Homo sapiens: one gene and its partners. The protein of the gene in region 2 purifies or fractionates together with the protein of the main gene of each other region. This does not show direct contact. Each region holds a gene or a part of one and is shown on either strand. Other genes may lie near its edges.

Region 1 (10,679 bases), on a different chromosome or scaffold from region 2:
TAATTAAACAAAAACTTAAAAATTGCTTTGAGTTGGAAACTAGAACTGAAGGAGCCTACAGCAGTCCTCGGTACTCTTCCTGGTGTCCACGGATGGCATACCCATCTCTCTCTCTCTCTCTCTGTTCCCTGTTCATCAGAGCAGCAGATACACCAACACCACTCTCAAGAGTCAGTAAAAGCTCCAAATCTATAGCCCAGATGCTACATACACTTCACAGAACTTAGGTGGTCCTTACTGTTAGAGACTGTGAAAAGTGGAATCGTCTCTCTACTCGAGAATCATTAGGTAATTTGAAGATGATCTTGACACTTTCAGGGTCATCAGGGGAAGGTTCAGGGGGCAGGCATTCCAACTTCCTTTCCTTTTCCTCCTGTAAATTCTGCAGAGACACAAAGCAAAGGTGAGGCTACAGCTCAAGAAATAAATACAATGACCATGTAGCTTTATTACGCAGTCGTCAGAAGAAAAATTAATGACTAAGTATTCTAAGAAAAACCTCTCAGGAATAGTCAAAAACAACCTAAATTTAAAGTACAATTGCATCTCATGTATTCTTTATTATGTCTAGGTATTTATTTGAGAAAAAGGAGAAAGGGAGCAGGGTGCCATGGTATGTGCCTGTAGTTCCAGCTACTTCAGAGGCCACAGCAGGACTTCTTAAGCCCAAGAGTTTCAGGGTGTAGTGCTCCATGATTGCACTGGTGAATAGCCACTGCACGCCAGCCTGGGCAACACAGTGAGACCCTGTCTCTTAAAAAAAAAAAAGAAATAAAAGGAAATGACTAAAAGACACTGGTTATAGGTAAGCGGTAATACATAATCAAATAAGATAATGTATATCTCAGTCTGATTGCTAGGGAACAAAAACAACAACAAAACAAAACAAAACAAAAACAAAAAGATAATGAGTAAAATGCCAAATCAGCTAATACTGGTATTAAGAATGAATATTTAGGGCCAGGCATGGTGGCTCACGCCTGTAATCCCAACACTTTGGAAGGCCAAGACAGGCAGATCATGTGAGGTCAGGAGTTCGAGAGCAGCCTGGCCAATATGGCAAAGCCCGTCTCTTTTTTTAAATTTTTATTTAAAAAAGAATGAATATTTAAATGGTATGAAAAATTTAAATCACCCCTAATTCCAACATGTTGTAATTTTTTCTTTCCTTTTTCCTTTTTTTTTTTCCCTCTTAGTCTGTTTAAGGTGGCTATCATTTTTTCCTTTCACACTTAAGACCAAGATGGCAAAGTCTCGGCAGTTTGGGAACCACAGGGAGTAAAGCCACACGTCCATTACCTGCCGCCGTCTCTCCTCTGCCAACTTTTGCTGTTGCACCTCCTCCTCCTTCCGCCGCTTACGCTCCCGCTCCTCCCGTTTCTTTCTTTCTTTCTCCTGGTCAGCTCTGAGAGAGGCCAGGTAGGCCTCATCCTGCTGTTGTCTCAGCACTTGGGTCTGGTTTCTTTCTTCCCTGTGAATAGATCAAAAGCAAGAGAAGAAAAACAGCACTCTCACAAAGTTCTGTGTTTTCTTATATTGAAATCTTCTGTGTGTGTGTGTGTGTAAAAATGTTGATATTCTTAGCAGATGACGATTTCACACTGCCATAAGGGATTCCAAAAGCAGAGCGTGGCAGAATCTGAATAAGCCACCTTTTTTCTCAGTTTAATTTGGCAGAAAAGGAAACAGCAAGCTTTCCTCTCCTCTTTTAAAATAAAACTTTTCCCCTAATTCTAACAAATGTGACACAGTACTGTTATTATGAAGGGATCATCAATATCATATTTTACAAGTAAATACCATTTTGGGTGACTGCATTTTTGTACTGATCTCATAAAACCAAAACACACACATATATATCCATACACACATTGTAGCAGATCTGAAAATGTAGAGTTTTCAGAGTCATTCAGAGAATCACTAATCAAAGATAAAACATTATAACATTTGGCATATCTCCTATTTTCTCTCCAACAAATTTCTGTTTTCTCTTAGCCAAAATATTTAGCCAATCAAAATAGTTGAACAGATTTTATCTTTAAAAATTAAGATAAAATTTACATGCAGTGAAATGCACAGATCTTAAATGTACAATTCAATGAATTTTGATAAATGTAACCATGTAATCACCACTCCAATCAAGACAGAACATTTCAGTTACCTCGGAAAGTTTCCTGTTCTATACATTTTTTTACACAGTTAAAATAACGCTATTATTTACAGGATTTTGATCTTGCATTTTTCTTTTTTTTTGGAGACAGGGCTAGCCTGTCACCCAGGCTAGAGTGCAGTGGTGCGATCATGACTCACTGCAGCCTCAACCTCCTAGGCTAAAGCAATCCTGCCACCTCAGCTTACAGGCGTGTGCCACCACGCCTAGCTAATTTTTGTATTTTTTGTAGAGATGGGGTTTCACCATGTTGCCCGGGCTGACCTCAAACTCCTGAGTTCAAGCAATCTTCTTACCTCAGCCTCCCGAAATGCTCGGATTACAGGTATGAGCCAACATGCTCGGCCTGATTCTGCATTTTTCTAATATGTAACAAGCATGTCCCCATGTTATTAAAAACTTTCCATAAAATTTAAGTTTGTTTAACTTTCTTGAGGGCAAGTTGGCATTACAAATCAAGAGCCTTAAAATATACTTATATTGATTGTCTCACCCAGAAACTGCACTTCCAGGAATTTAAATTTTAATCTAAGGAAACCATCACAAATTGCAAAAAATTATCTCCCTATATGCTAATTATAATAGTAACAAACCGAAAATAATCTAAAAATCCAACGAGAGTGGCCTGGTTAAATTATGATGTATTTAGATAATGGAATGTTATGCAGTAATTTTTAAAATGTGGCAGAATATTTAATGATGAGGGAAAAGGCCGTGATATATTCTTACATAAAGAAGGGTTGTAAAAAAGTATTATCCCAATTTTACAAATAAATGTGTACGTATATAGGGGTGTGTGTTGTGTATAAAATTAAAAAAATTTATAACAATGTTCAAGTGGTGGTAGGTTTATCAGTGATCTTAAATTTCTTCCTTGTGCTTTTTTGTGGTTTTAGGATTTCCTATAATTAATGTACATAACTTATGTAATGGAGAGGAATTATAACCATTCCACTTTTTTTTTTACATCGAAGTTCTTTATATTATATTCAGCTATTCTAAATGCCACAATATACATTCTTGAGCACAGAGGCCTGTCTTTGTTTATTCATTCATTTATTATTTTTTAAAGACAGAGTCCTGCTCTGTCATCCAGGCTGGAGTGCAGAGGCACAATCAGAGCTCACTGCTGCCTCGAACTCCTGGCCTCAAGCAATCCTCCTGCCTCGGGCTCCCAAGGACCTGGGACTACAGGCATGTACCACCATGCCTAGCTAATTTTTTCTTATTTTTTGTAGAGATGGGGTCTCGCTTTGCTGCCCAGTCTGGATTCAAGTAATCCTCCTGCCTCAGCCTCCTAACGTGCTAGGATTTCAGGTGTTAGCCACTGCACCCAGCCCTTGTCTTTATTTTGAACATCTCTAAGAACAGATTACCTGATATAGAGTAATTTAGGTCAAAGTATGTAAATATTTTGACAATAAATGGGCAAAGCTAAAAGCTAATAGCGGCCTGATGCACAGAAGAAGTCAGGATTGGTAGAGCCCCAGAGGTCAGCCCTCCAAATTTACAACTGGTCTCTCTCTGTTCCAGAAGGGAACTCCCTTGTACCTTTCTAGGCGTTCTGACACCAGGTAAGTCTGGTTAGCATCCATGATAAATGTCAGTTGGTTAATGAGGTCATCAGGTTGAATGAGGCCTTCTAGCCGTCCCACCACAGTCATCCTTCGATCCTTCAGCATAATCATGGCCAGGAATGGATAGGTGTTCTCTCGTAAAGCCTGTGAGACTGATAAAAAGACCCAACAGATCAAGGGCAGGACTTGACGGTGAAAAAGATCAACCCTTAGACTTTCCACAATGAGTGAGAGAGAACTGTTTTAATCCTGGTTGGGGAAGACGAGAGGTATCATTTAGTCTCCGCTTTTTCCCCGCCTCCTAGTTTCTTTCTTTTCTTTTTTTGAGCCAGGGTCTCACTATGTTGCTCAGGCTGGTCTCCAGCTCCTGGGCTCAAGTGACCCTCCCACCTCAGCCTCCTGAGAAGCAGGGATTACAGGAGTGTGCCACCATGCCCAGTTCCTCCCAGTTTTGTAATCTTTTGTTTTTGTTATCAATTTGCATGCCTATCCCTAGGTGCTTGACTAGAATAGGACAGGCTTTCCTGGTGGCGGTGTGGTTGTTGTGATGATGCCAGGGAAGGCTGCAGAGTTTAAGGATAATGTCTACTTGATGGTACAAAAAGGATCTATAAAGAATCTGGCACAGTTTTTCCCTGTACAAGGGCTCAAACCTAAAAGGGCACAAGGCTGCAAGTCTCAGCCTGATGATACTGATAATAATCTCCATCATCATTTTTTTTTCTCTTGCCTAATCCTTTCCTTATCCTTTCTCCCCACGTAACTTTTCTCCACCCTTAAAAAGGTTAGTTTTTCTGTTCCAAAGAAGCTTATTAATAGAAAGTTGAGGCTGGGCTGGTAGCTCCACCTTTAATCCTAGCACTTTTGGGAGGCGGAGGTGGTTGGATCACTTGAGGTCAGGGGTTTGAGACCAGCCTGGCCAACATAATGAAACCCCATCTCTACAAAAAATACAAAAATTAGCAGGGTGTGGTGGTACGCGCCTGTAATTCCAGATAGGCGAGAGGCTGAGGCAGGAGAATCGCTTGAACCCGGGAGGTGGAGGCTGCAGTGAACTGAGATCGCACCACTGCACTCCAACCTGGGTGACAGAGTAAAACTTGGTCTCAAAAAAAAAAAAAAAAAAATTGGTGTCCAAATGACCAAGATTTTTACCATAACAGAGTTTTACCTATGTTTTCCTTATGGTGTGAAATAAGAGATTTTATAAACTTCTATTAAAAAAAAATCCTTACCTTCCTTCTATTCACAACCTCCCTTCTGCCCCCTGCAAAGCCATATTAGAATGGCAAAACGCATGCAGGAATTTGGATGTTTAAAAACAATTAGGCTTAAGATTCAGACTCTGGGATGCAGGGACAACATCTGCCACATCTTTGGTTCTCAAGACATGGCACAGTATGTGGCATGCTAATATAAACTCAAAAGTTGCTGGATAGAAGTAGCCACAAAAATGACTACATTTTTCCTCACTGGATGCCTTCGTATCTTTTACTAACCGTCTAAAAATACTTATCTCCAAAGAAGAGTTATTGTCAGCAAAGATCTGAACTTTCCAAATCCATATCAGCACTCAAGGTACTCAAACAACTGACTCACTATGCAAGGGCTCTGTTAAAATCGTTGATGAAAAGAATAAACTCTTCAGTAAAAAGCCCATTAAGATTAAAAGCAAGCTGCTAGCCAAGACTGGGTATTTCTATGAATGTGGCAGGCTTTGGCAATGCTGAATGTGAAGAACGGGCTTTAGAATCTGGCAGACCCGACTGTACGCTACAACTTGCTAATTATGGCGGGGCACAGTGGCTCACACCTGTAATCCCAGCACTTTGGGAGGCTGAGGTGGGCTGCTCACTTGAGTCCAGGAGTTTGAGGCTACATGGTGAAACCCCATCTCTACTAAAAATACAAAAAAATTAGCTGGGCGTGGTGGTGCATGCCTGTAGTTCCAGCTACTCAGGAGGCTGAGGCAGGACAATCGCTTGAACCCAGGAGGTGGAGGTTGCAGTGAGCCAAGATCGCACCACTGCACTCCAGCCTGGGCGACAGAGCAAGACTCCATCTCAAAAAAATTTTTTTAATTAATTAAATAAAAACAAAAAAAATAAAACTTGCTAATTGTGTGATCTTCAGCCAGTGGCTTGAACTCTCTGAGCCTATTTCCTAAACCATAAAGCAAAGGTAATATGACCCCCCATCTCTCAGGACTGCTGAGAGGATTAAATGAGACAATATAAAATAGCAACTAGCGTCGTATCTACCACAGAACAAACACACTTGTAATAAATGGCATGGCATGTCTTTCCAGACTATTCCAAAGATACTCCAACAATCTCAATGAGGCAGAAGAAACATAACTTACCCCTGTATCCCTCAGGTTTGTTTGTAGAGCATGCCCAGAAGAGCATCCTAGTGTTTATTAGTGAAATAACTTCAGGTGCACAGAGTGTGTTGCTGTGGAAAGGTATGAAAAGGATATGAGAACAACTTGCTGACTATAAACTGTCACCAGAAAGAGTCAGAAAAGAGAAGGAAAATAATCAATCCACTTACCGACAAAACTCATCAGAGTCCTGGTGATCATCTCCATGAAGATAAACCAAAAGAAAGCGAAGCTCCCTTTTGGCATCGTTAAGTGCCTGTGAGAAAGAGAAGGTCACTCACTATTAAGAAGACTGTGCCTTGAGCTTATATTTAAGCTAAGGGTCCTAATGGATACAGTTATGTATTTAGGAACAAAAGGAAAAATAAGGAAAAAAGGTGAGCAAGAAATCAGAAAATTCCTGAGCTCCTACCTTCACACCCCTGGCATTGTTCTCCCTATAGAAACTCCACGCTAACAAGCTTTAATGAAAAGGTTTTAGTGTTGTTAGGATTCAAACTTAACAGACACATGAGAGTAGACAGGCTTACAAACACAGGTTCCCAACAAACCACAGAAAAGTCAGCTGCACCCACAGTCTAAGGAAGATAAAAACAGGAGAATCTGACCATATGAAAGGGAGGTGAGAATTTTTCTACTTCACAGCTACAACATCCTTGTAAGTAAAAAATAACTGCGAAGACAACCCTGATCCCAGGCCACATATCGAGTAGGAATGATGGACTGTACGATCCAAAGGCATTCTAAAGAGCATAGGGTGTAAAAGACTTTCAAAGACAAGGCTAGCGCCGAAGACTCCTGTGCGTGCTCCTGCATGTGCGTGCTCCTGAGCACATTACACTGTACGACTGCTGACATGGTCAAGGGTGGTCTACCCTCAGGATCATAGCAGAGAGGGTACACAGGAGGTGCTCATCTCACTCATCTCTGTATCTCTAGCACTGAGGACATTGCCTGGCATACAGTAGGTGCTCAGTTTTTGTTGAGTGTGGTGGGAACAGCCAGCGAGGAGACTGACTATGATAAAAAGCAGATGTGGGAAAATGAAAGCAGGAAGCAAGGGTGAGCATTTTTCTTTCTCCAGATAGATTCAGGAATTCTGGAGGCTGCATAATAGAACCCCCTTTTGCCTATTGCCACAGCATTCCCATAGTTTTCCCTATTCCTGTAGTGTTAATTCTATGTATTTCTCTGGCAAACTAGAGATATACCAAACACCCACAGAACTCTAATTTTTCCTCCCCTGAATGGTGAGGTCTTGAGTCAAAGGTCTACATGGCTGAGGTTGAATGAGATGTGCTACCCTGAGTCTATGGTCTATGTCCTTATTCAATTCTGTGAGAGATCAAAGAAGATGTAGGCTTTGCCTTCAAGGGGCTTTCAGTCTGGTAGCAGAGATTAGACACGAACACAAATGATATAGGAAAGAATATAAAATTGCTATCAATTTTTAAAAGCTATGGAAGAACAAAGGGAAAGATTAGTATTCTAGATGATGAGATAGGGCAGGACAGGGCACAACAATCAGGGATAGCTGTAAGTGGGGCGTGACATAATCTAGTTGAAGGACTGGCAAGATTCCAATTAGCAAAAATGTGAGGAAGGCATTCCACGTGGATGGACCGGCAAAAGCAAAGGCACAGAGGTAGGCAAGTACAGACTATGTTCAGGGAATGAGTCAGCTGGAACTGAGGGTATGGTAAAATAAGTTATGCAGAAAAGACCTCAAAAGAAGGGCAGCATTAGATCAAAGAGGGGCCAGCTAAAAGGTTTGGTCTTTTTTATTACCCACCCCTATAAGCAGTGAAGAGCTAATTAAGGTTTTTGAGTACAAGAAGGACATGATCAGTGCTGGGCTGTGCTCTCCTTTGAGGATAGAATCATTTCGGTAAGTTGGCATCTATATGGTTTATGGCACTGACCTGGCTGTACGTTCCCTGGTAGAAGACAGGGTGTGCCCTCCCATATTTCTCTTCAAAAGAGTGCATAAATGAAACAATGTCCCCAACGGGGTCAGTGACCCGGCTGCGAGGGTCAGGCCGTATAAAACGAAGAGCAAACCTGGGGAGGAAGGAATAAATATCACATGAATCCAGCTTACTACAGTGCATATCGAGTGGGCCAATTTGTACAGATTCCTGTAACAGAGCCAGAGGCACGGCAACAAAGGGAGGTGAACAGTCTGTGAGTGGACCATCAAATCCGAGAGTAGAGTCTGGTTCAAAAGCCATAAAGCAGCAAGTGTTATTCTATTGCCTGTTCAGGAAGAATGCAAACTACTGGGATTATAAATTCCAACACTGGCCTACATAAATCCTGAGTATTTTTTGTAGAACAATTTAGGGCTAGAAGGGTTTGGAAGGGAAGACACAGTATCCAAAAAGATCATGTGTCAGGCTATGCACCCAGACTCTCTAGAATGGCACCGTCTAAGTACTGTAGCCACTAGTCAAATGTGGCTATTCTGAATTTAAATCTATTACATACAATTAAAATTCAGTTCCTTAGTAATGCTAGCCACATTTCAAGTGCTCAACAGCCACGTGTTTAATGGCTTTCATACTGAACAGCGGAGATACAGAACGTTTCTATCATCACAGAGAGTTCTACTGGACAGTGCTCTAGAACAGAGGTCATTTTCTGGTTGTCCTACTTGCCCCTCCTTCTCCTTTCTGTTTTCCTGGGATTTTAAATATTGAGTTCACAACCCCAAACTATTCAACTTACGGATAGGAACTTCAAATCTGAAGTTGCGGTTATGACTTACTTGCTCTTCAAAGGGGCAAGTACCTTTTGCTTGATGATTTATGGTTGATGGCAACCATGGAGGAAGTTATAAAACTGCTCCACAGTACCCTGGCAGATGTGGAGTACTGGCAGCTCTTGTAAAGTGAAGAATACATACCTAATGGTACCACACATCTGTTTCTAAAGGGCCTACCCTATTTGTATAGTACCATTTATTTATCCTTTGGGTTTCCAGAGAAGGCAACAGGACAGAGGATAATGTGTTACCTAACATTAAACAAGCTGGTTGGATGATACAGCTGCATTAAAATTAGTAATACATGCCGTGCATATTTTCCCTAGAAAAGCAAACAATATTCATTTACTTAAAACGTTTTCAGCACAGACAAGGTGATTAAACTGTGATACTTTTCCTTAACAAAAAGTGAGTCAATTCATTATCCCAACAAATTCCCCCTGTGTATACAATTCTACTTGGAATTTCTCCCGAGTAATCAAACCAAATTCATTGACAACAACGTTCCAGAGCGAATTAAAAGCACAAAATGTAGTAAGTTGTATACGTGGGGGAATGGTTAGAAATTCATCAGAAGACTGATGTTTTAACTACTTTCTTTGAAATTAAGCATTTTAGAATTCTCTCTTAAAGCCTTTATTTTTTTTTCCTCATTACACAATATTCCCACGATCTACACAATTTAGGACAATCAGCTTTTTTGATTTTTTAGAAAAAAACAGAGATGTCAACTTAGTTTTCATTATGATTTTAAAGATTTTTACATGTTCATTCTTAAATAAAATGGGGATGGAAAGAGTACTAAGCAATTAGTGATCATGAAGAATGTTGCTAAACCAAGAAAGCCATTAAGTAGACAGCCTCATAAAACACCAAGGGTCCAATATAAAAGGTACTATCTGACCCTTGTACTTATGCAGCTGCTGGACCCACAACTTCAGCCTCTGCTCCCTAGAGGCAGGGTAAAGGCTGTCCCATATTTGAAGGGAAGTACAGGGAACCTGTACTTCCAGGGAAGGCCCAGACTACATATCCCAGCTCCATCTGCTGGCCTGGATGCCCTTGAACATTTAAGTTCCCCATAAAGCCTAGACATGGCTCTGGACCAGATAACCCAAGCCTGACATGCTAAGAAGTTGTGCCCCACTCATTTTCTTTTCTTTTTCTTTTTTTTTTTTTTGAGACGGAGTCCCACTCTCTCACCCAGGCTGGAGTGCAGTGGTGCGATCTAGGCTCACTGCAAGCTCCGCCTCCCGGGTTCACGCCATTCTCCTGCCTCAGCCTCCTGAGTAGTTGGGACTACAGGCACCAGCCACCGCGCCCGGCTAATTTTTTGTATTTTTAGTAGAGACAGGGTTTCACCGTATTAGCCAGGATGGTCTTGATCTCCTGACGTTGTGATCCGCCCACCTCAGCCTCCCAAAGTGCTGGGATTACAGGCGTGAGCCACAGAGCCCGGCCAGTTGAGCCCCACTCATTTTCTGGCCTTGGACCCTCTGTAGCTTCCAATGATGAGCTCTTTTAATGGTACATGAAGGAAGCTAGAAGAAAGGTGAAGGTATGAAGCAAGTGGGTATATACATAAAAGGGTTCCAGTGTTTGCAACCTAGGGGCTGCCAGAGCAAAGTGAAAAGGTACCGAAGCTGCCAGGCATGGTGGCTCATGCCAGCAATCCCAGCACTTCGGGAGGCCAAGGCAGGTGGATCACTTGAGGCCGGGAGCTCAAGATCAGCCTGGCCAACAAAATGAGACTCCATCTCTACTGTCTCTACTAAAAATACAAAA
Region 2 (10,679 bases):
TGGCACCGATGAGAGCTGCAGGGTTGTGATGAAGCCTGGGAAGCGAGGGCTGTACATAGGGAGAGCTTGGCAGTCCTGGGCAGGCCTCCTTCTCCATATTCCTGCTGACCTGGCTCGAAGCTTCACTTCCTGTCTCCCTCCAAGTCAACCTCACACAGGAGACACTCCTGCTCTTTGTACCAGGCAGTGCCATCAGCTACAAAGGTCTGCTTCCTATTTCCTCAGGCTCTGTCAGGTGTTCCTGGAGCTAATGAGAACAATGCAGGTGACAGCAGCTGGAGGATGAGAGGGGTCTTCCCAGCAGAACCTCCTCTGCCCTCTGGAGAGCTCCAGGCTGTTTCCAGGTCCCCAAGTCAGACCCAGAGCCCTAGGAAAGGGCGGGTAAAAGAACTGGAAACTCCACTTCACAGGATTTCCCAAATCCTCCTCTGCCATGACATCCGCCTGCCCCAGCCATGCTCCCTCCTGCTTTTCTGCCTTAGTCTCTCAGCTCCTAGAGCGGCCCCTAGCTCCTGCCACACCCTGCTGTGGGCTCCAGCTTCTCATCAGGGCCCCTGCCCCCCGCCTAATTTAACCCTTCTGCACTCAGGCCTGGCCAGGAAAGGCCTTCCTGCTCCTCCTCTTTGTGCTGTGGTTTCCAGCCCTTCCAAGGCCCACCTCAGCCCAGGTCTCCTCCAGGAAACCTCCCTAGTGAGTCTAGGGTGTGTTGACCTCTCCTCTGGCTCAATCCTTCCCCCAGCACTTTTTGTGACTTGGAAACTGGTAATGAGCCACACCCTGTCCCGGGCTGCTCCCTGGCTCTCTTGTCCATAACTTTGGCTTCTGTAAACTTCCCAGGCTGACAAGGGGCAAGGGATAAAACCCCCTCTTTATCCCCCACGACAGAAAGCCCAGTGCAGAGGAGAAAAAAACATGGAAGGCAGGTCCAGCTCTTTCCTTTACACTCAGATTTGGAAGGAAGATGGGAAGGAAAGACCAAGTGGGAGAAAAAGAAGAAAGACATGAGTGGAAAGGAGTGAAGGAAGAGGGAAGGGCTGCTGCATGACACTCAGTACCAGGGTCATGAGAGGACAGATCAGGCCCACGATCCAGGTGGCCTTGAATCATGCTTTAGGGCTCTCACACTCTGATTATGCAACTCCTAGGCTTGACACAGAGACCTCTTTGAAAACCTTTGGAACTCACCTCCTCCAGGCAGCCTTCTGAGATTGACTCTGATCTTTGCCGCACCCCCCCGGCCCCGCCCCGGCCCCCTTGACTCCCTGAGCTGCGCTACTTTGCACTCATCCATGCCACTTCCCATGATGCTAGGTCCTCTGGGGAAGGGATGGAGGTCTCTGCCTCACTGGCAGGAAGTCAGTTTACATTTATCATCTGTAGCCAGAGATCAGACTGTCTTTTTTTGACCACTTTTTTTTTTTTTTGAGATGGAGTCTTCCTCTGTCACCCAGGCTGGAGCGCAGCGGCGCGATCTAGGCTCACTGCAGCCTCCGCCTCCCGGGTTTAATCAATTCTCCTGCCTCAGCCTCCCAAGTAGCTGGGACTACAGGAGCCTGCCACCACACCTGGCTAGTTTCTGTATTTTTAGTAGAGATGGGGTTTCACCATATTGGCTAGGGTGGTGTCAAACTCCTGACCTCAAGTGATCCACCCGCCTCGGCCTGGTGCTGGGATTACAGCCATGAGCCACCATGCCCAGCTCCAACTTTATTAGCTCCAGGGGGTGGTTCAGAATATATTTTGTATTTTAAACCCAGTTTGTCTCTAAGATAATCTTACTATAATCTTATATCAATTTCTTTAATATCAGGCTCTGTACTGAGCCTTGGGGGACACACAGATAACTAAGAGCCAGTCCCTGCCCTCCACCCAGCATTCGGCCTAGTGAGTTGAGTGAGAAATGCATTAAAGGCCCACTGAGGCTGTCTTATGGGAGCACTCAGGAGGGCACAAAAACAGAGTCTGGGAAGCTGCACAGAAGAGACCCGAAGGACAAGCAGGAGTTCACCAGATACAGGGAGGACATTCCAGGCAGGGAACACTGCAGGGCAAAGGCCCGGAGAGGTGAAAGCACAAGGTATGCCAGGCAGACGAGGCAGCTCAGTGTAGCCACAGAGTAGACGTAAGAGGGACTCTTGTCACACAGCAGACGGCTTCATGAATCAGCCTAAGACACACTAACTTTGACTCACAGGCCATTTTTTCTCAGGGGGACAGAGGCAGGTATTGCCATGCTAGTTGGCATTTAGAAATCTGTGTGTGTATTGGGGGTTAGTGGGGAAAACGTGACAACGTGGATGGATCTCAAAAACTATGTCTTTTTTTTTTTTTGGAGATGGAGTCTCGTTCTGTCACCCAGGCTTGAGTGCAGTGGCATGATCTTGGCTCACTGCAACCTCCACCTCCCAGGTTCCAGGGATTCTCCTGCCTCAGCCTCCCGAGTAGCTGGGACTACAGGTGTGTACCACCATGCCCAGCTAATTTTTGTATTTTTAGTAGAGATGGGATTTCACCATGTTGGCTAGGCTGGTCTCGAACTCCTGACCTCAGATGATCCACCCGTCTTGGCCTTCCAAAGTGCTGGGGTTACAGGTATGAGCCACTGCGTCTGGCTTCTTAAAAACTATTTCATGACACAAAAGAGCATGTACTATATGATTCCACTTATATGACGATTAGGAACAGACAAAATCCATCTACAATGATAGAAATTGGAATAATCGTTATCTCTGAACTTTTGCGGGTGATGGAAATCTTCTGAGTCTTGCTCTTGGTGATGGTTATATGAGCTCATGCAGTTGTCAAAATGCACTGAACAGAACACTTAAGATCTATACATTGGACTGCTTGTAAAGTAAACCTGAAGAACATGTGTGAGCATTTTTGGTTGTTATAATGACTGAAGGGTGCTCCAGGCAAATATATAGGAGATGGGGCCAGGGATGCTTTTACATCAAAGAACTCTCCCACCCAAAGGCCAGTAGGTCCCTGTTGAGAAATACGGCTGCAAGCTATGGGGAGCCACAGAAGGATGGAAACACCAGAGACTTGGCCACATCTGTACTTTGGTAAGACAGGGCTCTGTGGTGGTGGGAGTATCTTGGGACAGTGATGTGGCACAGAAGGTGGATATATGATTTTCACTGCCACTCCTAGGCCTCGTATTTGCCTAACTCTTAGCCCACTGGCCTGATGCTGCCCCGAAGGGGCCCCAGGAGGTCCCTCTGAGGTACCTCAGATGCTGACCAGCTAGGGAAGTAGCAGAGGCAGCAGATGGCAGTGGGAAATGGCAATGCCTCACCCCCAGCCTCCCTGCCTCATGATAAGCAGCAAGGATGATAGAAGTGATCATCTTCCTCTGAAGTGGAGTCTCAGTGAAGGGGTCTCCCTGAGTGTCTAGAGTCCCTGGAAGCAGGGCTGAACGCTACTGCTGCTACTATAGGAAAGCACTGTTTTACATCATGGGCTAAAGAAGAACACAGCTGACTTGCGTGAAAATACTCACCTGACCCCTGCCTTCGGAAAGCCTTCTCTGACCTCCGTCCTGGGCAGGTGTCTCTCCTGTGTTCCCACAGCCCTACAGAGCACAGTTACTGCCTAGGTTTAAATTCTGGCTCTGACTCTTGCTGTGCGTACCTGAAATAGAGTTACTCAAGCTCTCTGTTTCCTCACCTGCAAATTGAGGATAACAGAAACCGTCTTCACTGAACTGTCACCAAGATTGAGATAATGTAGTAAGCACTCAGTAAGAGTGAGTGCTTATGATGAGCCTAGAATGCATCAGTACAGACCACTGTTGCCAGGTGACTCCTCTGGCACCTCCACTAGACATTAAGCTCCTTGCGGGCAGGGTCCTTGTGGTCGTGTTGATTGCTGAGGGCCTTGTGTCCACCACAGTGCCTGGTACAGTAAATACTTGCATGCTTGAATCAATTCCACCCACTAAGATCTCTCCTGAGAGCTTTCTTTTTCCACCCACAATGCCTCTAAATCACAACAATTCTTCAGAAACGGAGTCAGACTCATTTGTATTCTGTTCCCTCTTCTCTCTTCTCTGTTACCTCCATGGCCATGCAGAACCCAAACAACATTTAGTTTTTAAATTAACAGCTTCTTCCTGGACTCTCTATTCCTAAGACTTCACTCAGTGGTCTTCATACTGGGCACACAAAAATCCTTTTTAAAAAATGCACCCTGCACCTCTCAAAAAGTGAAACACAGAATGATCATACGATCCAGCAATTCCACTGCGAGGTATATACCCCAAAGAATTGAAAGCGGGGGCTCAAACAGATCCTGGCACACCAATGTTCATAGCCGTATTATTCACAATAGCCAAAAGGTGGAAACAGATGAATGGCCAAACAATGTGGTATATCCATACAATGGAATATATTCAGCTTTGAAAATAAATGAGATTCTGATATATGATACCACAGAGACGACCCTTGAAAACATTAGGCTAAGTGAAAGAAGCCAGACAAAAAAAGACAAACATGATGCCACTTACACGAGGCACCTAGAATAGGTGAATTTATGGAGACAGAAAGTAGAACGGAGGTCACCAGAGGCTGGGGGAGATGGGAATGAGGAATTAGTATTTAATGAGTACAGCGATTCAGTCTGGGAAGATAAAAAGATTCTGGAGATGGACAGTGGTGATGGTTGTATAACACTGTAAATATACTTAACGCCACAAAATTATACAGTTAACATTGGTTAAAATGGTAAATTTCGTGTTATGTGTATTTTACCACAATTTAATAAAAGCCTCCCACACCAAACAAACAAAACACTGGAAGGACAGACTTCCCTCTGAAATCTGACAGAGCTGCATGTCCCTCTGCCACCCCTAGGGCTCTGTGACCTTGACCCCCTGGCCCATGATCTATCTTCCTCTCCATCCTCTCCTTGGTTCCAACTCTTGGGTTCCCTGTTCTTTTTCTTTTTTTCTTTTTGAGACAGGGTCTCACTCTGTCACCCAGGCTGGAGTGCAGCGGCGCTATCTTGGCTCACTGCAACCTCTGCCTCCTGGGTTCAAGCAATTCTCATGCCTCAGCCTCCTGAGTAGGAGGGGCTGCAGGTGTGCGCCACCATGCCTGGCTAATTTTTATATTTTTACTAGGGACAGAGTTTCACCGTGTTGGCCAGGCTGGTCTCAAACTCCTGACCCCAAATGATCCCCTGCCTCAGCCTCCCAAAGTGCTGGGATTACAGGCATGAGCCACTGCACCAAGCTCCCTGTTCTTTTTCTACTCCAGACGCCAGGGCCACGACATGTTCTTTTCCTTGCACCCCTCTTTAACCACCTTGATCCCATCATATCTCTTGAGGGTGCTTCAGATGGATGCTTTGAGACTCTGAGATGGAAAAGCTATGTGCCTGGAGATGCTCATTATTGACTATGTGCAACAATAAAGACATAGTTAAATAAAGCAGGGGTCAGCCAACCAAGTATAAACAGAGAAGTCATGACAAAATGTTAAGTGAAAAATGCAGGCTATAAACCTATATGTGGACTAATTTCAACTATTACAAAATACAGATTTACAGAAAACATAGAATAGGGCATATAAAATGATGGTTCATCTTACGTTTGTTCTCTAGCATGGAGTATGGTTATTTTCACAACTGTAATTTATAATTTATACCAGACAACATCTTTAGGCAGATGATGAAATACACACATTGTTAGTTTTGCAAGAATCTTCAGAATTGATTCCAGATGCCCATATGCTGCCACCATTGAGGCCCACAAATCCCTCCCGAAAGGCTTGCAGAGGAATGGGAGGCGAGGGGCTGTTTCATGTCGACTCTTCAGAAAGACACTTCAGGACTTGGTGTGTCTCTCTAATGACTCCAACCAACTACCTCACCACAAAAAAGGAGGGCAATTTAGGGTCTTTATTTTGCTACTGGACTAACCAGGAAATTTGGCTGTGAACAGTTTATCCCTTACATTAGCCCAAAGTTAGGAATTCCCATGATGCTTGTTCCCTTACAAATCTGCAAACAGTGGATCTCCCGCATCTGGTGTGAGGGGATCCCCTCCCCATCCAACATGCTACACCCCAGGTATAGAAACTTGAGTCACGCTTGCTTCAATGGGGACAAAGGAAGGAGGGTGGCTTCTGTTCCATGTGCTGCAGCACAGTGGGAAAAGCTTTTCTCAGTCTAAGAGTTTGGAAATTACTGAGTTTTGCCAGACACCGGTGGCCATGATGCTCGTTCCACATCTCACCAGATGCAGAAAAGATGGAGATGATGTTAAAGAATGGGGGGAATCTATTTTTTTTTTTTTTTCTTTGAGACGGAGTCTCGCTCTTTCGCCCAGGCTGTACTGCAGTGGCTCTATCTCGGCTCACTGCAAGCTCCGCCTCCTGGGTTCATGCCATTCTCCTGCCTCAGCCTCCTGAGTAGCTGGGACTACAGGCGCCTGCCACGGCGCCTGGCTAATTTTTTGTATTTTTAGTAGACACGGGATTTCACCATGTTAGCCAGGATAGTCTCGATCTCCTGACCTCATGATCCGCCCACCTCGGCCTCTCAAAGTGCTGGGATTACAGGCGTGAGCCACCGCACCCGGCCTAGAATAGGGGGAATCTTATTTTCCACAATCCCCTAAGATAAGGAAGAGCCTTTTGGTGATAACACTGCTTAAAAGAGAAAAGAGTTTCTAGTTTTTGTTTTTCTTTTTTCCCCTTGAGATGACCTGAGTTTCTACCTTCTACATATGACAGGTGACAGACCTGTGGCTGCAGATGGAATCTGGACTGGGGGTCCAGAGATCCTGTGATTCTAAGACTGAGCCTGCATGTCACCTAGCCCCTCACATGGTCCAGCCAGTTTTCCCATCTCCACCTGTAGATCCATTTCAACAACTGATTAGGTGCCCGAAGCATTTATATGTCTATAAATAATTTCTCCCTCCCCACTGCCTTCTCTTTTTGGGAATCTGTCAGTTTACTGGAGATGATAGCATCTTGTCCTGCAAATATGGGTCTTTGTGTTAGAGATGAGTTTCCTTAAAACCTCTATGAAGGAAATGGTTGAGAGTGCAAGAGAAAATTTGAAATGAAGCCAGAAGGATGTATATTTGTGCGGGGAGGAGGATGAAGAAAGACCAAAAATGTTATTTTCATTGTTTTACAGTCATTTCAGGTACGTTTTACTATTTCGTCTTAGTCAACAGCAGTGTTTATAATATAAAGCCATACTGAATAAAATATGCAGACTTCACTTAAATTTTCATACTTGAGTGACAACACAGCATTCAAGTTATCTGAGCTTTATTATTTTGATCATAGTACAGATTACTATACCCTTACTATGGTATAATATCTTTATTTATTGGTTCATATAAGTCTAAGATATGCAGTCTCACACATAAATGGTCATTTCCAACATTCATTCATTCATTCATTCATTCACTCATTCAACAATGATTTACTGTGAAGGGCCAGGCTTGGTTTGCTAGGCACAAAGAATATAAGGTGAATAGGATATGTGTTCTCTTAGATTCATTAACATCATGCAGCTTCTCATTCTTCAGGTCTATAGGCCCTTACATGATTGGCTCTGCCCACTCTCTCACCTTTTTCCTTATCACTTTCCCCCTTTGTCTGTCTCTTACAGGTACACTTCAGGTTCCTTGAAGACACCAAGCTATTGTTACCCCAGGGCCTCTGCACCTGTGGTCTCCTCTTTTTAGAATGCTGTTCCCCAGGTCTCCTCTTCACTCAGGTCTTTGTTCAAATATCACCTCCTCAAAGACAATTCTATTTAAAGGCAGATCTCTTTCTCCATTCTTCCTCCCAGTCATCCCTCTTCCTACTTAATTTTTCTCCAAAGCACTGCTCACCACCTGAACAATTTTATCTTCTGTCTCCCCTGGTAGAGCTTGGGCAGGAAGTTCGTCTTTTTAGCAACGTATCCCTAGGGGCTAGAACAACCTGGCATGTAACAGATGTTTATATGTATTCAGAGAATAAATGAATGAATGAACTGGTTCTTGATAGTTTAGGGTGCTTGATGAACCAGCTTTTCAGGAGGGCTCATTATGGTCCCTGGTAGATTCATAGTCCCTACTCCTAAGCCTCCCACTCCTCCTCCTATTGGGCTGTGTCTGTGAATGACATCCTTGGCCATTCAGCCTCAAAGCCTTGCCATCACTTATTCTTCCCTCCTGTTAGTGCCTACATCCAATCAGTTACCAATTTTAGTGACACTGTGGCCTCTTGCATCAACTCCTTTTTCTAACCATTCTTACAACCACCCCCAGTCCATACTCTCTTTATCTCTCACCTAAACCATTGTCATCATTTCCTACCTGGGCTTCTGGCCAGCAGGCTCTCCACATCCAATCTGTTCTCCAAGGGGTAGCCAGAGTGAGTTTCATCATGTTACGGTTTGATTATGTTTCTCCCCCACTCAAAAACTAAAGACTCCCAACTCCTTAGCTTGGCAGTCAATGTCCCCCCAATAACCTCCATCCCCTTACCCAACCTTCCTTCTCAAGTCCCTTCTTTTATTCTTTTTGCTCCAGTTGGAATGAACTGCTTTCCAGTTTCTGTATATATCCTAGAAGTCCCCATGCCTGTCCATCCTCTGCTCATGCTATTTCCACTCCTCGAAATAGTTTTCTTCCTTTCTTCTAACGTACAAATCATTCACCCAGTTTAAATGCTACTTGGCTTCTCCAAGAAGCCGTTACTGACCTGTGAGGAGAATAAAAGTCCTCTTTCAACTGTTTTTAAGGGGTTATCCGCCTCTCTTTTAGGGCAAGTCTAGGGAAAGGACAGGCAATACGACACAGAACAAAGAGTTCAGAATCTGGAGTCAGATCATCTGAGCTGGAGGCCTAGCTCTCTGGATCTGAGACTTTTGAGGTATGCACCCTTAGATAAGTGAAAATCCAAGCCTTAATTTCCCTATCTGCAAAATGAGGATGATAACACTATTGTCACGGATGTCTTATGAGGAGTAAGTGACAGAGTATAGGAAGAGCTTTTGACACTACATACAAATTAATTATGAAATTCTATTACGCTAACGTACAAAAGGTTGAATAAACAAAAGTGTTGATCCTCCCAGGGAGTTTTCACAGATGTTTTATGCTGGCTGAGCCTGAAGTCCAGGAATAGGTCAGGGGGAAAGGAATTTTTTGAGGGAGGAGGACTTTGAGGCCTTAAGAATCCCATGTCCTTGGATGATCTGAAGAAAGGAAGAAGTATAGGGTATATCCACAAAGCTGGAGTCCTAGTGGAATTACTAGCTACCAATTCCTGAGCATTTTCTATGTGTTAGGGACTGTACTAAGTACTCTACATACATCATTCTTGAGTCAGAAATTATTCCTTCATAAAGCAAAAGAAGCCCATAGCAGTTACATAAATACGTGCTCCCACCCCACCGCCAAATAGTTCATAACATCATCAATCCAATGATGTTATTTTTTTGGATGGAGAAATTGAGACCCAAAAGGGTTATATACTGACACCGTACAGCCAGTGAGGAAGAGACTGGGACTGGAATCCAGATCCCTTCACTCTCAAGGCAGAAATCCCTACATGGCAAAAACCCAGGGGCCACCATTCATTATGAAGTCTGTGTAAACTTCATAGCCAATGCCATCTACATGGACTACACTGTCAGTGGCAGCCCCTGAAGTTCTGCCACTTGGCCACCCTGGCTCAGCTCCATGATGAGCTGCTCACCCCCCTCAAAAAGGAAGTTCTCGATGGAACTGGAGACTATGATTCTAAGTGAAGTAACTCAGGAATGGAAAACCAAACATTGTATGTTCTCACTCATAAGTGAGAGCTAAGCTATGAGGATGCAAAGGCATAAGAATGACACAATGGACTTTGGGGACTTGGGGGAAAGGTGGGAGGTGGATGAGGGATGAAAGACTACACATTGGGTTCAGTGTATACTCTGGGTGATGGGTGCACCAAATTCTCACAAATCACCGTTAAAGAACTTACTCACGAAACCAAATACCACCTGTTCCCCAAAAATCTATGGAAATAAAATAAAAAAAGGAAGTTCTTGAGACCAGAACCTCAGGTCCCTGGAGACTGAACACTGCCCTCCTTGCCAACTATTCCATCCAGTCTCCTCCAAGGTGACTGACTCCATCCCTTCACCATCCGTCTATGCTTGTACTCCTTCAACACATCTCTCGGGGCACCCTCTCTGCACCAGGCATCAGGCTCAGCTCTGGGGACACCTGGCTGCCCTTGAGGGAGCCGCGTGCTGAGAAACCACCCGAACCTGGTGTGATTGTAACTCAAGCTTCCCCAGCAGCTTTGTCAGCAGCACCAAGAGGCTGCCCTTAACGAGCCCCAAGGAGAAAGAGGTGGGGACCTCCGCAAAGGGATGACTACAGGGGCCTGGTTGGAGTAGAAGATCTGGCCCTCAAGCGGGAGGGAAGGGTGACTGGGAGGGCATGCAGTCAGGACACAGTGGAGAAGAGGACGAATCCTGGGATGCCACATCACCTGGTCCAACTGAGGACACTCAGGCTCAGTGTGTCCTGGGTGGATCAGGACTAACGCCTGGGAATCTGATCTCAGGTCCTGGGCTTCTTCATTCTCCCAAACGAATCCCAAACCCGGAGTGTTTGAGTGTTATGAGAGCTCTCCTTTGAGGTTGAAGGAAGCAAATTAAAGCCCCCT
Region 3 (9,584 bases), on a different chromosome or scaffold from region 2:
ATCCTGTTTATTTTTATTTTTAAATTAAATTAAATTAATTTATTTATTTATTTTGAGACAGAGTCTTGCCCTGTCACCCAGGCTGATGTGCAATGGCACGATCTAGGCTCACTGCAACCTTTGCCTCCTGGGTTCAAACCATTCTCCTGCCTCAGCCTCCTGGGTAGCTGGGATTACAGGCACCCGCCACCAAGCCCAGCTACTTTTTGTACTTTTAGTAGAGACAGGGTTTCACCATGTTAACCAGGCTGGTCTCGAACTCCTGACCTCGTGATCCACTCACCTCCCAAAGTGTTGGGATTACAGGCGTGAGCCACTGCGCCCAGCCTATTTTTATTTTTTTTGAGACAGTGTCTCGCTCTGTTGCCCAGGCTGGAGTGCAGTGGCGTGATCTCAGCTCACTGCAACCTTTGCCTCCCAGGTTCAAGCAATTCTCATGCCTCAGCCTCACAGGTAGCTGGGATTACAGGCACACGCCACCAGACCCAGCTAATTTTTTTTTTTTTTGAGACAGTGTCTCGCTCTGTTGCCCAGGCTGGAATGCAGTGGCGTGATCTCAGCTCACTGCAACCTTTGCCTCCCAGGTTCAAGCAATTCTCGTGCCTCAGCCTCACAGATAGCTGGGACTACAGGCACACGCCACCACACCCAGATAATTTCTTTCTTTTTTTTTTTTCCGAGACAGAGTCTTGTACTGTTGCCCAGGCTGGAGTGCAGTGGCACGATCTTGGCTCACTGCAAGCTCCACCTCCCGGGTTCACGCCATTCTCCTGCCTCACCCTCCCGAGTAGCTGGGCCTACAGGCATGAGCCACCACACCTGGCTAATTTTTTGTACTTTTAGTAGAGACGGGGTTTCACCGTGTTAGCCAGGATGGTCTCGAACTCCTGGCCTCAAGTGATCCGCCCACCTTGGCCTCTCAAAGTGCTGGGATTACAGGTGTGAGCCACCACACCCAGCCTAATTTTTGTATTTTTAGTAGAGATGGGGTTTTGCCATGTTGGCCAGGCTGGTCTCGAACTCCTGGCCTCAAGTGATCCGCCCACCTTGGCCTCCCAAAGTGCTGGGATTACAGGTGTGAGTCACTGCGCCTGGCCCAAAGCTGTGTGTTTCTACTGCAGCACACTGCCTGATGGGGGTGGGGTTCCTAGAGACCTGGCAGGTGCTGGAGGCTGTGTGACAGCCCTAGAGTTACCTGCTGAGTGGTAGAGGGGGAGGCAGTCATAGACGATGTCGTTGGGCCGCATGCGGAATCCATAGTACACCAGGGCAGCCATGCGGTAATACCTGGGAAGGCACAGGGCCAAGGGCTGAGCGGGCCCTAGAAAGGCAGAAGGAGGCTCCCCAGCCCTGCCTGTGCCTACCCCACCCTGGGCACCTGCCCCTTACCTGCTGTGCACCACGATGGCGGCCTTGGGCAGCCCTGTGGTGCCGGATGTGTAGATGTAGAACAGTTTATCTAAAGAAAACAGACGCGAGTGGCTGTCGGGGGCAGCTCAGGGCTGGGCAAAGGGTCACACAAATGGACACCTGCAGGTGTGCACCCTTCAACACCTGTTCCCATCACACCCTTGCTAGGAAGCCTGTTCTGATAACCTCAGATACCATTCAGCTCTAACACCGGCATCCATTCCAACAAATATTTCCTGGGCCCTTGCTCTGTGCTAGGCCCTGGTGGAGAGAGACATCAGTGAGTAAGATGGGCACGGGCCTGGCCCTCTTGGCAGTCACAGCTCAGTGGAACAGTCAGATGAGGACACAGGCAATTCCAATACTAAGCAACAAGTGCCGAGGGAGGGCACAGGACCTGTTGAAACCCAGTAGCCACATTTGGCCCAAGCTTGCAGGAGGGGAGGTGGTGCCAGGTGGGCTTCACGATAAAGGTGACACCTGCCCCAAGTCATAGAGCACAGGGAGGCATTAGCTGCAGGAAGTGGGGTGTTGAGGTAGCTTCCGCACTGCTGAGCATTGATCTGTCCCACTCTGCAGCCCTCGACAGGGATTGCCACGTTAGAGTTTCTATGTGAGGCTCGGCCCTACCAGACTTGAGGTTCCCTGGAGGTCAGGAACTCCACAGGCAGACTCCACGTGTTTAGAATGCCTGCCGAGACACCTCATGCTCTCTGCCTGCCTGCTGTTTGCCAGCCCTAGGCACTATGAGGGCACCAGAGCAACCAGCCAGAGTCCCTGCCCTCAAGCAGCTGACAAATGCACCCAAGAGACCAGATTCACATACAAGAGAGAAGTTAAACAGTGCTGATGACAATGACCAGTTACTGAGCCCCTCCTGCCACACCCTAGCTTCAGGACTGGCCCCACTGTATTTTTTTCAACCCTCAAAGATACCCCATAGAGTAGGTTCTGCTACTGTCCCCAGTTTTATGGCTGTGGGAACTGAGGCTCCAAGGGCAGGGCAGGTGTCAGGGTTCACACAAAGGAAGCAGTAGAACCAGGATATAAACTCGGATCTGACTCGACAGCCCAAGCTCTGAGCCACCAGGCAATGTGGCTTCACAGGAAAGAGAATGAGAAGAGCAGAAGAACCAGGTAGGCTACAGTATAAAAGAAGAGGGGTGAGAGGCTCAGGAAGGCTGCCTGGAGGTGGGGTCAGGGAGGCAGCACAGTGCTGGGAGAGGATCACAGCTGGAGATCCTGAAGTGTCCTGCACTGAAGAGGCACTTGATGAATATACAAAGGGTCTTGCTCCTCACCCACCCTCCCACCCAACCCCAACCAAAGCCCAGACCAGGCAGGTTCCCGGAGTCCACAGGATTCTGCCCATTAGGCATCAATGAAGGCTTGTTCAACAAATCACACTGGACTTTGTGAGCTCCTGTGTTCTCAGCCCTGTATCTGGCACTGATACACATCAGCTCATGTCACCTTCACAGTAACCCTGGAGTGGCCCAGGTTTACTGTCACCATTTTCCAGATGGAAAAAGGGAGGTGACGTGACATGTTCCAGGCACATGGCAAGTTTCCAGAAAAGCCTCCTTCTGGCACTGAGGCCAGTGCTCTGTCCAGGGCCTGTGTGAGAGCCCCTCTATGGGGAGGGGATGGAGCCCACCTGTGAAGCCCTTGTCAGGGCAACTGGGAAGGTGCTTGGGAGCATCTTTCAGCAGAGGGTCCAGGTGTTCTGTGCTTGGAGGCACCGCACCGGGCTCCCAGGAGCCAGAGCAGAAGAGGCTGAGCGAGGGGTCCAGGCTGGCATGGACCTCACAGATGGCTGTGGGGAGACAGGGCAGTCAGCAGGCAGGCCAGAAAACCCCATGTTCCCAGGGACCTCTGCTCCCAGCAGGGCTGGCCATGTTGCTGAGGATACTGGCTGGGCAGGAGGAGAGGCAGTGAAGCAACTGGGCCTTCAGTGTTGACAGGGGCACCGGCAATGGTTCTATTAGCCATGGGCTAACCACAGAGTAGGTCCGCTTTACCTGCATTCCCTGGTCTCACAGCCCTGGGAAGGAGGGACCATTGACAGCCCCTCTTACAGATGAGAAGATTGACGCTCCGAGAATGAGAGGACCTGCTCACAGCTAGAATGTGCTGGACCTGGCGTGCAATGCCAGCTCTACCTCACATCAAGGTCTGGGCTCCCCCCCACTATCCCGCACTACTTACTCTGTGGTGCACCAGATAGAAGGGAGGAGTGCGGGTCAGAGGCCAGTGGCCCTCCATCCCCTTCCGAGAGCGGGAACCTGCTTTCAGGCTCCCCTGCGCACTGCACGGACATCACATAACCCCCACCCCCGGGCATGGAGCAGCGCTGGTCGGCTTGGCCCCACCTTCCTGGCTTCCTCTTGATTTGCCCAACCCTCTCTTCTTCCCTGGCTGCCTTCTTCCCTCTCCCCTTTCAGCACCATTTTTTTCTTTCCTTTCTTTTTTTTTTTTTTTCTTTTGCTTTTTTTAAATAGAGACAGACAGGGTCTCACTATATTGTCCAGGCAGGTCTTGAACTCCTGGGCTCAAGAGATTCTCCTGCCTTGGCCTCCCAAAGTGCTGGGATTACAGGCATGAGCCACTGTGCCTGGCCCCCTTTCAGCATCTTTTTTTTTTTTTTTTTAAGACAGAGTTTCACTCTGTCGCCCAGGCTGGAGTGCAGTGGCATGATCTCGGCTCACTTGGTTCAAGTGATTCTTGTGCCTCAGCCTCCTGAGTAGCCAAGATTACAGGCGTGTGCCACCACACCTGGCTAATTTTTGTATTTTTAGTAAAAACAGGGTTTCACCATGTTGGCCAGTCTAGTCTTTAACTCTCGAGCTCAGGTGACCTGCCCTCCTTGGCCTCCAAAAGTGCTGGGATTACAGGCGTGAGCCACCATGCCAGGCCCCCTTTCAGCATCCTAATGACTTCCCTATTCATTATCCCACAACCACAACAGTGTGGGGAGAAAAAACAGAGTGCTGTGATCAAGCTGAAGATCAAACCCCAGTTCTACCACTTACTAACTGTGTGATCTTGGGTGAGCTCCTCACAAACCCCTCTGAACTCCAGGCTCATCATCCATAAAACCAAGATCCCTACCTCACTCGGTCTTTATAGAGATTAGAGCTGCTCTTGGAAAGCAGCAACCTCAGTACTTTGCAGGTGCCCAATGTGGCAGCAAATAAAATGCAGGCTCTGTGAGGAAAGTGGGGAATTAATTTTGTTCCCATTTTACAGATGAGCTAGATACGGCCTAATTAGTCACAAGGATGATTACCATTGTACTGAGGGGCCACCTAGCATCAGCCATGTTGCTAGTGCTTCAGGTAAGTATCTTTTTTTTTGACACGTAACCTCTCTCTGTCATCCAGGCTGGAACACAGTGACGTGATCTCGGCTCACTGCAACCTCTGTCTCCTGGGTTCAAGCGATTCTCCTACCTCAGTCTCCCGAGTAGCTGGGACTACAGGTGCGCACCACCATGCTCGGCTAGGTTTTTTTTTGCATTTTTATTAGAGACGGGGTTTCACCATGTTGGCCAGGCTGGTCTCAAACTCCTGATCTCAAAGCTGCCCACCTCGACCTCCTAAAGTGCTGGGATTTACAGGCATGAGCCACCACACCCGGCCTTTTATTTTGTTTTTTTTGAGACAGGGTCTCACTCTGTCTGCCAGGCTAGAGTGAAGTGGCACAATCATCACTCACTGCAGCCTCAACCTCTTAGTCTTAAGTGATCCTCCTGCCTCAGCCTCTGAGTAGCTGGGACTACAGGTCCATGTCACCAAGCCTAGCTAATTTTTTAAAAACTTTTTTTAGGCCGGGCGTGGTGGCTCATGCCTATAATCCCAGCACTTTGGGAGGCCGAGGCGGGTGGATCACGAGGTCAGGGATTGGAGACCAGCCTGACCAACATGGTGAAACCTCGTCTCTACTAAAAATACAAAAAAATTAGCTGGGCGTGGTGGCGGGTGCCTGTAATCTCAGCTACTCAGGAGGCTGAGGCAGGAGAATTGCTTGAACCCGGGAGGTGGAGGTTGCAGTGAGCCGAGATCACGCCACTGCACTCCAGCCTGGGCGACAGAGCAAGACTCTATCTCAAAACAACAACAACAAAAAAAACAAAAAAAAACAAAAAACTTTTTTTAGTAGGCCAGGTGTGGTGGTTCATGCCTATAATCCCAGCACTTTGAGAGGCAGAGGTAGGTGGATCGCTTGAACTCAAGAGTCTGAGACCAGCCTGGGCAACATGGCAAAACTGAGTATCTACAAAAAATGTGAAATTTAGCCAGGCATGGTGGTGCATGTCTGTGGTCCCAGCTATTCAGGAGGCTGAGGTGGAGGGACTGCTTGAGCCTGAGAGGTCAAGGCTGCAGTGAGCTGTGACTGCACCACTGCACTCCAGCCTGGGTGACAGGGCAAGACCCTGTCTCAAAAAAATTTCTTAGTAGAGACAGGGTCTTACTATGTTGCCTAGGCTGGTCTCAAACTCCTGGGCTCAAGGGATCCTCCTGCCTTGGCCTCCCAACATGCTGGGATTACAGCTGTGAGCCACTATGCCCAGTCTGAAGTACCTTTTTGAAAACAGTATGAGGTAGGAACGACGGATGAGGAAACTGAGGCTCAGAGAAATCAGTCCCTTCCCCAGGATCTCGTTTACTCGTGGCACTGCCTAAGCTGTCTGACTCCACTCTGTGCCCTTAACCACTGACCCACACAGCCTTGGCAGGGCTGGAAGGGAGCTGTGGTCTGTGTAAGATCCCATGGGGTTCCTGCTTGTCCCCCGCCCCCTTGGGGCTCACCTGAGGCCATTTCGCTGCCAAAGACAAGGGCCCGTGCGCGCGAGGTGGTGAGGCAGTGGAGCAGAGCATCCCGCCGCAGGTTGGTGTTGATGAGGGCTGCCTCCACACCGAGCTTGGCCATGCCCAGCCATAGGCCCACGAACTCATTGCGGTTCTCCATGAAGATGGCAGCCACATCGCCCGAGGCCAGGCCCCGGGCCTGCAGGAAGTTGGCTACACTGCTTGAGTACTCATCCAGCTGGCGGAAGGTCCAGTGGGTATCTGTGCCCTCGAAGATCAGGGCCGTCTTGTCGGGGTGGCGCCGAACGGTAGAGGCAAACAAAATGGGCACTGTCCGCCGCTCCTGCAGGCACTGTCGCACCTTTGCCTTCACCTTCAGGAGGACCAGGCCGCCACTGTGTGTGAACAAGAGAGGGCGCTGTGTCTGCCATGGTTGGGAGGGAGGGGTCCTGACACCCTACCCCAGGCTGCTGCCTCGCCAGCCTATGCTTCATGAGCCAGACCCCCTACAACACTTCTATCTCCTGGCTCCTGCTGGGAACATGCACTGCCTTACTGATGCCTCTCAATAACACTGAGAGTTCGTATGATTCCCCTCCCCTTACACAGAAGGAAATCAAGGCTCTCGTGGTGCCGTGGCCTGCTCAAAGCTTCATGGATGGAGGGTGGCTGAGCTGAGATTTGAACTCTAGGCCTCTCTGGCTCCAGAGTTCTACTCCTACCCTCTCAGCCTGCTGCTCCAGCAGAAACCTCCTAGGTCTCCAGAGCTTCCTGTAAAAGTCCAAACTCCTTGTTTGGGGCCTCCCACAGTCCAGCTGCTCCCTCGACCCACCATGACCACAGTAAATAATGAATGAGTTTGCTGGTCTGTCCAGTCTTCCTCCCTGTGAGCCTAGCTGGGATAGGCTTCTGTCTTATTCAACACTCTATCCCCTGGGTCCTGTGCCAGGCAGAGTAGATGTTCAATAAGTTTGTGGAATCACTTGGCAACATCCCATTCCTGCCACCTTTGTTTTTTTGTTTTTTTTTTTGAGATGGCGTCACACTCTGTCACCCAGGTTGGAGTGCAGTGATGCAATGTCAGCTCATTGCAACCTCCACTTCCCAGGCTCAAATGATGCTCCCACCTCAGCCTCCCAAGTAGCTGGAACCACAGGTGTGCACCACCATGCCTGGCTAACTTTTTTGTATTTTGGTAGGGACGGGGTTTTGCCATGTTGCCCAGGTTAGTCTCAAACTCCTGAGGTCAAGTGATCCACCCACTTCGGCCTCCCAAAGTGCTAGGATCACAGGTGTGAGCCACTGCGCCCAGCCCTGGACTCCATGCCTTTGTTGCTGATGCTGTGCCTTCTGGTTGGATTCATCTCCTTCCACCACCACTAAGGCGCCTCTCAAGTACAGCCGCTTTTTCTCCAGGAGGCCTTCTCTGATTCCCAGGGTCCTGGCTGGCAGCTGTTTCTCCTTGCTCCATGCTCCCACAGCTACCACCCTTCCTGGTGTGCCACTCCGTGCCTTCTTTTGCAATCAACCAAGATTGACAAATGCTGAGCTGCCTGTGTGGGGTGTGGGTCACTGAACTGGGTGCTGGGACACAGTAGTGAGCAAGGCTGTGCCAGGGTCTCTGCCCACATGGCACTGCCAATTTACAGATGTGCTGTGTCCCTTTCTTTCTCCTGACCAATCTGAGCTTGGCAGATGGGGTCTGCCTTATTCCTCTCTGGACCCCAAAGCTAGCCTGGCACCTAGTAGAGAACAAGCGGGAATAGATATTTCTGGTACAGGATGTCCCTTGGAGCATACCGGGCTTTCTTTGGGGAGCAGGTTATCCCAGACATCTGAGTAGGGGCTCTGCTCTAGAACTCAGTGCCCCCTGTGCCATCTCACACCCCTGCCAACCTGAGGGCAGGGCCTTTCCCCAAAATTCCTCTTTACCCTTTCATAAACTTACAGAGTCCTCAGGACCCCTTGCAGATGTCTCAACACACTTGGTGTTCAATGTACGTCCTAGGCCAAGCCTGCCCAAGGCCTGGGAGCCTCAAGTTAGGGAGATTCCCTGGGAGAAGACTTTGACCTTGGAGATGGAGGGACCAGGTACTATTGCCAGGGTACGGGTGTGGAGCAGAGGCTGCTGTTCTGGAACTCAGCTCAGCTGCCCTGTGCTGGTAGAGAACATGAGGTCTGGCCTGGGGAGATTTGGGGGACCAGAAGCTCACTGTAGTGTGGCAGACCCCAGGAAAGGCTGGGCCAGGTACTCACAAGATATCGCGCCTGATGGTCTTGATGAAGACCCGGATGAAGCGCCAGCCGCCAGATCCCAAGTAGAGGAACAACAGGGAGAATCCCACCTGGGTCCAGGGCAGTTTCAGCACCAGCTTGGAGAACAGCAGCACCCCCACCAGAGAGGCTCCAAGCAGCATTGTGGCCTGCGGACACAGGGCAGTTAGTGGACCCAAACACCCAACCCTCCAGGTCTCCTACCTCCCAGCCCAGACAGCCAGGCCACTGTGATCCCAAGGGGACAGCCTGTGGTAAGGCTTAGCCATACTGAGTTGGGTGACTGACCACAGGGGTCCCTTTCCAGGCTTGGCCTGGAAGGGGCAGGCTAGGGGCTTGGCACTTGAGGTGAGGAATTCCAAGAGTGAGAAGCAGGAGGCTGGTTCTCGTCTCATAGTCCCATCTCTGCCCACCATTCTCCAAGTGACCTTGGGCAAGACCTTTTCACATTTTAGACCTTAGTATCTGCCCTCTGTGCAATGGGTGTAGTGAGACGTGTTCTTTTTTTTTTTAAGTTTTTAAACTTTTTATTTGCATATTAAAAAAACTGTGCATTCCAATAATTAAAATCATTTGAACAAAAAAAAAAATGGCACTCTGATTAAACTGCATTACAGCCTGCAGGACACCTTGGGCCAGCCTGGTTTTACTCTAGATTTCACTGTCGTCCCACCCCACTTCTTCCTTCACCAACAAGCAAGTTCTTTCCTTCCCTGCCAGCCAGATAGACAGATGGGAGAGGCAGGCGCAGCCTTCGTTGTCAGTAGTTCTTTGATGTGAAAGGGGCAGCATAGTCATTTAAACTTGATCCAACCTCTTTGCATCTTACAAAGTTAAACAGCTAAAAGAAGTAAAATAAGAAGGCAATACTTGTGGAATGTACAATGCATATTGGCGGTGCACGCCTCATTACGATTCGCTTGCTTGCTTCTCCTGTTCAATCGTTTCTTTGGAAGGCAGTGGATTTTTCTCTTGCATCTCTGTCTTCTTCAGTTTCGACTTATCGAATTTCTCAATCTCAGCCATATCGGGTTTGTCAGACATGGTTGCGGAGGAAAAGCGGAGCGAGGCATGCGAGAACGAGCGAAG

What was found.
Region 1: the proteins of PTPN5 (region 2) and FAF2 purify together in Homo sapiens (affinity purification with mass spectrometry, with the first as the bait; 2 studies listed by BioGRID). This does not show direct contact.
Region 3: the proteins of PTPN5 (region 2) and SLC27A4 purify together in Homo sapiens (affinity purification with mass spectrometry, with the first as the bait; 2 studies listed by BioGRID). This does not show direct contact.

The regions. Positions count from the first base shown.
Region 1 is NC_000005.10:176,489,706-176,500,384, reverse strand, and holds part of FAF2 (FAS-associated factor 2), read right to left. Parts: intron 8,192-10,679; coding exon 8,053-8,191; intron 6,387-8,052; coding exon 6,301-6,386; intron 6,202-6,300; coding exon 6,110-6,201; intron 3,900-6,109; coding exon 3,722-3,899; intron 1,472-3,721; coding exon 1,300-1,471; intron 383-1,299; coding exon 239-382; intron 1-238. UniProt on the Homo sapiens protein: Plays an important role in endoplasmic reticulum-associated degradation (ERAD) that mediates ubiquitin-dependent degradation of misfolded endoplasmic reticulum proteins.
Region 2 is NC_000011.10:18,779,914-18,790,592, forward strand, and holds part of PTPN5 (tyrosine-protein phosphatase non-receptor type 5), read right to left. Parts: intron 1-10,679. UniProt on the Homo sapiens protein: May regulate the activity of several effector molecules involved in synaptic plasticity and neuronal cell survival, including MAPKs, Src family kinases and NMDA receptors.
Region 3 is NC_000009.12:128,342,187-128,351,770, reverse strand, and holds part of SLC27A4 (long-chain fatty acid transport protein 4), read right to left. Parts: exon of another isoform or gene 9,406-9,584; coding exon of another isoform or gene 9,379-9,405; exon of another isoform or gene 9,011-9,378; intron 8,645-9,010; coding exon of another isoform or gene 8,639-8,644; coding exon 8,478-8,638; intron 6,617-8,477; coding exon 6,222-6,616; intron 3,227-6,221; coding exon 3,068-3,226; intron 1,460-3,067; coding exon 1,390-1,459; intron 1,288-1,389; coding exon 1,196-1,287; intron 1-1,195. UniProt on the Homo sapiens protein: Mediates the levels of long-chain fatty acids (LCFA) in the cell by facilitating their transport across cell membranes. Appears to be the principal fatty acid transporter in small intestinal enterocytes.